Linked DNA regions of Homo sapiens: region 2 is linked to region 1. Evidence: fine-mapped QTL for protein levels in blood plasma. A gene starts in region 1. The other region holds a variant in brackets. All regions are shown on one strand. Distances are between the middles of the regions.

Region 1 (2,866 bases):
AAAAAATGGGACAGGAGTGGTGGCTGATGCCTGTAATCCCAGCATTTTGGGAGGCCAAGGCAGGCCGACTGCTTAAGCACAGGCATAAGAGACCAGTTTGGGCAACATGGCAAAACCCTGTTTCTAAAAAACAATAAATAAAATAAAAACAGGCCAGGCGTGGTGGCTCACGCCTGTAATCCCAGCACTTTGGGAGGCTGAGGTGAGCGGATCACAAGGTCAGGAGTTCAAGACCAGCCTGGCTCTACTAAAAATACAAAAGTTAGCTGGGTGTAGTGGCACCTGTAATCTCAGCAATTTGGGAGGCCGAGGCAGGAGAGTTGCTTGAACCCAGGAGGCGGAGGTTGCAGTGAGCCGAGATTGCACCACTGCACTCCAGCCTGGGTGACAGAGCAAGACTCCATATCGAAAAAAAAATAGATAAATACATTTTAAAAATAAAAAATTAGCTGGGTGTGGTGGCTCATGCTTGTAATCCAAGCACTTTGGGAGGCCAAGGTGGGTGGATTACCAGAGGTCAGGAGTTTGAGACCAGCCTGGCCAACATGGCAAAACCCCATCTCTATTAAAAGTACAAAAACTAGCCGGGCATGGTGGCATGCACCTGCATTCCCAGCTACTCGAGAGGCTGAGACGGGAGAACTGCTTGAACCTGGGAGGCAGAGGTTGCAGTGAGCCCAGATTGCACCACTGTACTCCAGCCTGGGTGACAGAGTGAGACTCCCTCTCAAAAAAAAAAAAAAAAAAAGAATTCATAACAGGAAGGTAAAGTGGGTGAACCTCTGAAGCACATTATAACATAAGTAGAGAAAGAGGAAGACAGAGAAAATGTGGAGAGCAGAACAGAAGTGAGAAGTGATCAAGTACTCTCATGAGGTGTGGGAGGGGGGCACTTAGTGGCACCCCACAATCTGCCTTCTGGAGAGACAGATTTCTAACCTTCTGTCTGGACTATGGTGTCAAAGTGCAAGTTGATAATTAACAGAGATTTTTCCTTTCTCTTCATCTCCATGTTCATCTCCAAGGCACTGAACAATGAAGTCAACCTTTTCATAACTGTCCATTTTTAGTTTCATTCATTGCACAAGTGCTTATTGAGCAAGGGATTTTAAGGTGATAAGAGACACACAAACACAGAAGCCCATCCCTGTCCTTAAAGAGCTCCCAATTTGACATAATTTAAATATTCATCTCCAAAGGAATTTAGAGAACCTATCCCAAATCCCAGGTTCCTCTTGGATACAGCATTTTAATCGTCAACACCCAAATCTTGTGATAGAAAAGGGCGGGCACACCAATAACTTGGAAACAACATTTATTTTTAGAATGAGTGCAGTGGCTCAGGCTTGTAATCCCAGCACTTTGGGAGGCTGAGGCGGGAAGATCGGTTGAGTCCAAGAGGTTGAAATCAGCAAGGGCAACATAGCGAGACCCCCATCTCTACAAAAAATAATAATAATTAACTAGGCGTGGTGATTAGCCCCCTGTAGTTCCAGCTACTCAGGAGGCCAAGGTGAGAGGATCCCTTGAGCCCGGGAGTTCGAGGCTGCAGTGAGCTATGATGGCCACTGCACTCTAGCCTAGGTGACAGGGCAAGACCCTGTCTCAAAAAACAAACACAAACAAAAACCCTTATTTTCAAAAATTATGAATTTTGTAAATCTCAGGATTTACATCCCTCTGTTTTTAGTTTTGCAATCCACATAAAACCAAGACAAAACAAAAGCTCTGAGAACTCACCTACTCAAGGTCGCCTTGGCTGCAATTCAGATCACCCGAAAATCCCAAAGCCCAGGCTGCACTTCAGACCAATTAAGTCGGGAAACATCCCAAAGCCCAAGTGCACCTCAGACCAATTAAGTCGGGAATCCAGGCACCCTCAGGTGATTCGAATGTGTAGCCAAGGTTGACAACAACCGCTATAAATCATTCTGCCCTTGAAACGGGAGAACCAGGATCTACATTTTTCAAGAACCAGGATCTATGGCACCGTCACCCTCGTCCCTACACACAGGCCACCAGCAATGTTCCCAGATGCAGTTTTGTGTTTCACGCGGTCAAGAACAGAATCCAATCCTCTCCCACTTGGACAAGTGAGGATGGAGGAAGGTTAATCTAACCCGCCCCGGCCCTGGTCAATATCGCATCCGTGCGGAAGCAGACGCTGGCTCGGCTTTGCGGGCCGCAGAGAAGCCCCCGGACGCCTCTCTCTCCTCCACCTGCTGGGTTCCTGGCTTCGGAATGGGGAGTTGCGGGGGTGGAAAAGAGGAAAGCCCAGCGCCGGGGGACAGGATCGCCATAGGAACGAGCACAGGCTGTCCCCCGAAAGACCGAGACAAAGAGGCGCCCCCCGCCCGAACAAACCGGCGGTACTCACGCAAGTGCCACCCAGCTTGTGGCTCTCCACCACGGCGGCCCTGGCACCCAGCTCGGCCGCCCTGCGCGCGCTGGCCAGCCCGCCCGAGCCGCCCCCGATCACCAGGTAGTCATAGGAGGCCACGGCGCCAGCAGCGGGCGGCGGGCCCTGCGGCTGCGGCTCCTGCCTGCAGGCCATGGCACGGGAGAGGGCGCGCGTGAGGGCCGCGGGCTCGGGCAGAAGCAGCAGGAAGCCTCGGAAGGCGCGCGCCGCCCGCCGCCAGCTCGGTCCCGCGCCGGCGCTCAGGGCTCGGGGCAGCAGGGCCATGCACGCGGAAGTGGCGCGCCAAGTGGGGCGGGCGGCCCGGGGGCGGTCCCCGGGGTAGGGGGGCGCGGGCCCCGGGCAAGCGCAGCCTCACGGTGACTAAGCATGCGCCCGCCGCTAGGCAAGACCCAGGAGGATGCCCAGAGGCGGGGCCGCCTCCCAGTTCCCCGCCCCGGTGGCGGAGCC
Region 2 (2,906 bases), 28 kb before region 1:
AGTTCGAGACCAATCTGGCCAACATGGTGAACCCCGTCTCTACTAAAAATACAAAAAGTTAGCCAGGTGCAGTGGTGTGTGCCTGTAATCCCAGCTACTCGGGAGGCTGAGGCAGGAGAATCGCTTGCCCTTAGGAGGCAGAGGATGCAGTAAGCCAAGATTGCACCAATGCACTCCAGCCTGGGAAACAGAGCGAGACTCTGTCTCAAAAAAACAAAACAAACAAACAAACAAACAAACAAACAAAAAACCCCTAAAAGTAAAAATAAAAATTATCCAAGTATGATGGTCCATGTCTGTGGTCCCAGTTACTTGAGAGGCTGAGGCAGGAGGATAACTTGTGTCTGGGAGGTGGAGGCTGCAGTGAGCTATGACTATACCACTGCAGTCCAGCCTGGGTGACAGAGCAAAAGACCCTATCTCAAAAGAAAAGAAAAATCCCTAATATCCCGTCACAGAAGGGAAATGTATTTTTCATTGTTTTTAAAGCTCTTTAGCCTCATTTCTTCAGAGAGGAAAAAACTCTGTGCAGAGACAATATCTCCCTATGTTGCCCAGGCTGGTCTCGAACTCCTAGGCTCAAGTGATCCTCCGGCCTGAGCCTCCCAAGTAGCCAAGACTACCAGCATGTGCCAACACACCCAGCTAATTTTTGTATTTTTTTTGCAGAGATCGGGTTGTGCTGTGTTGCCTAGGCTGGTTTCAAACTCCTGGGCTCAAGAAATTCGCTCGCCTCAGGCCTCCCAAAGTGCTGAGATTACAGGCATAAGCCACTGTGCCTGGCTTCTGGAACTGATCTTTCAGGCGGCTGAATCCCTAAAAGATTTCTCTTTACCTCGTTGCAGCCCCAGGACTACTCATGCACAGTATTCCACAAGGTTCATGCTCCATCCAAACAGAAGCCCCCTCAGTGCAAAAACTAAATCATGCTATCTTCCCTACATTATTTATGTACTTGCCCAGTTATTACTTATTCACCAACACCGTAACAAAGATAAAGTAGACTTGAAGAATCACGTATCAATCGTAAATTCATTTTCTTGTGTTTCAGAGCCTTTTGTTGATGACATGCATAAATGTAAATATTTAAAATTGCTAATGAACAGCTATTTATAATGAAACTTCTTTGAGGGTGAGTCCGGAATGAAATTACATTATCCAAACATAATGAGTCATGACTGTATGTCTCACTACATCCTCACATATGTCATGTCACTCAACCCTAAAATCAAACAATGCAGGGTGGATCACAGGGAAGGAAGGCTGTTCTCTAACACATTTCTGCGACCTGATAGCAAACCAAAAAAGATTGTATGGTTTTCTTAGAACTCCTCCAAGTCAGAAGCCTGCCTGGTCTGAGGTATCTTCAAGGGACATTTTCACCATCCTATGGAACTGCAAAGCAGCTCCCTGGTCCTTTCTGAACTGCCTCGTGCTGTCTGAACTGTCCATGACTCTGGGTGAATCAAAGTGAAGATAGGCTCATGGACTATGAGTCACTCTCCCTAAAAGCCCTTCTAAAAGCATAGGATTAGGACCTCAAACTGGATTAGCACAGCCCCTGAGGGAGCAGAAGAGTTGAGCAATGCAAACTCCACAGTGAGTGCCACTCAGAAGATGAATGAAGGCCAGTCCCTGCGCCAACACATTGGGTCCC[T/TCC]CCACCTGTTTCCAGGCATCACCTCTTCTCACAAGTGACAGGAGCATCCCTCTAAACTAGAAAGCCTGCAATGTACAGCAACTTCAAATCAGAGAAACAAACTTCCTCATGATCTTTTTGCCCCTCTATGAATCTAAATCCATTCAGCACGGTGGCCCATGCTTGTATTCCTACTGCTTTGAGAGGCCAAGGTGGGAGGATTGCTTGAGGCCAGGAATTCTAGACCAGCCTGGACAACAGAACGAGACCCCATCTCTACAAAAATTTAAATTAAAAAGTTAACCAGGTATGGTGGTGCACGTTTGTAGTCCCAGCTACTCGGGAGGCTGAGGTGAAAGGATTGCTTGAGCCCAAGAGCTCAAGGCTACCACAAGCCATGATGGCACCACTGCACTCCTGCCTGGGCGATGGAAGAAGACCCTGTCTCTAAAAAAAAAAATGTTTGTTCATTAAAAGAAAATCTGGCCAGGTGTGGTGGCTCACATCTGTAATTCCAGCACTTTGGGAGGCTGAGGCGGGCGGATCACCTGAGGTCAGGAGTTTGAGACCAGCCTGACCAACATGGAGAAAACCCACCTCTACTAAAAATACAAAATTAGCGGGGCGTGGTGGCACTCTCTCTCTCTTTCTTTCTTTCTTGGTGTGATCTTGTCTCACTGCAACTCCGCCTTGAGAATTCAAGTGATTCTCCTGCCTCAGCTTCCCGAGTAGCTGAGACTACAGGCCCACACCACCACACCCAGCTAATTTCCATAGTTTTAGTAGAGACAGGGTTTCACCATGTTGGCCAGGCTGGTCTCGAGCTCCTGACCTCAGGTGATCTGCCCGCTTCAGCCTCCCAAAGTGCTAGGATTACAGCCATGAGCCACCACATCTGGCCAAAACCAGCTATTCTATTCTAAAATACAAGCTACTTTAGACACATTCTTAATTGATGCTGTATTAAGTTGAAGAAAGAAGACAGTTTTAGGACTTTGCTATGCAGTCTTCAAATTACCCTGCATTTGACTTTGGCCTCTGATTGAAAGCATGAAAGATTTGAGGGATCTACTGAGGAGTTCTAGGAATGAGATATACAAGGTCATGAAAAGAGAAGCTGTAAGAGGAGGGAATTCAGGAAAGGCCTACATTAAATGCTTGGGAGGAGAAGACGAAGAAAAGTTACCAGGAGACAGTAAGGAAGAATGAGTCACTGAGGTCAGGTCAGGTTGGCTTACCCGGGCAATTCTTCCAGCTGAAAAAATCCATC

Direction of the effects. Alleles are on the strand shown, and positions count from the first base shown. The strength of an association depends on the size of the effect and on how common the allele is.
With allele TCC in place of T in region 2, the plasma level of the protein whose gene starts at base 2,694 in region 1 is lower (moderate association).

The links. PIP is the chance, under the fine-mapping model, that this variant and not a neighbour inherited with it causes the effect. The UK Biobank Pharma Proteomics Project read protein levels with antibody pairs (Olink). The fine-mapping took linkage between variants from a reference panel, not from the people measured, so its PIPs are less certain.
Region 2: its variant is fine-mapped to the plasma level of the GSR protein (UK Biobank, PIP 0.98).

Annotation. Positions count from the first base shown.
Region 1 is chr8:30,725,153-30,728,018 of GRCh38, forward strand. It overlaps GSR (glutathione-disulfide reductase), which reads right to left and starts at 2,694. Exons shown (of 13, transcript NM_000637.5): 1 at 2,378-2,694. The coding sequence starts at 2,683. RefSeq lists an enhancer at 1,592-2,279 and silencers at 2,355-2,794, 2,865-2,866.
Region 2 is chr8:30,697,207-30,700,112 of GRCh38, forward strand. It overlaps GSR (glutathione-disulfide reductase), which reads right to left. Exons shown (of 13, transcript NM_000637.5): 6 at 2,875-2,906. Among named protein-coding and RNA genes, the nearest start is that of GSR, 29 kb to the right of the region's middle. The variant T/TCC (reference allele first, on the strand shown) is at 1,658.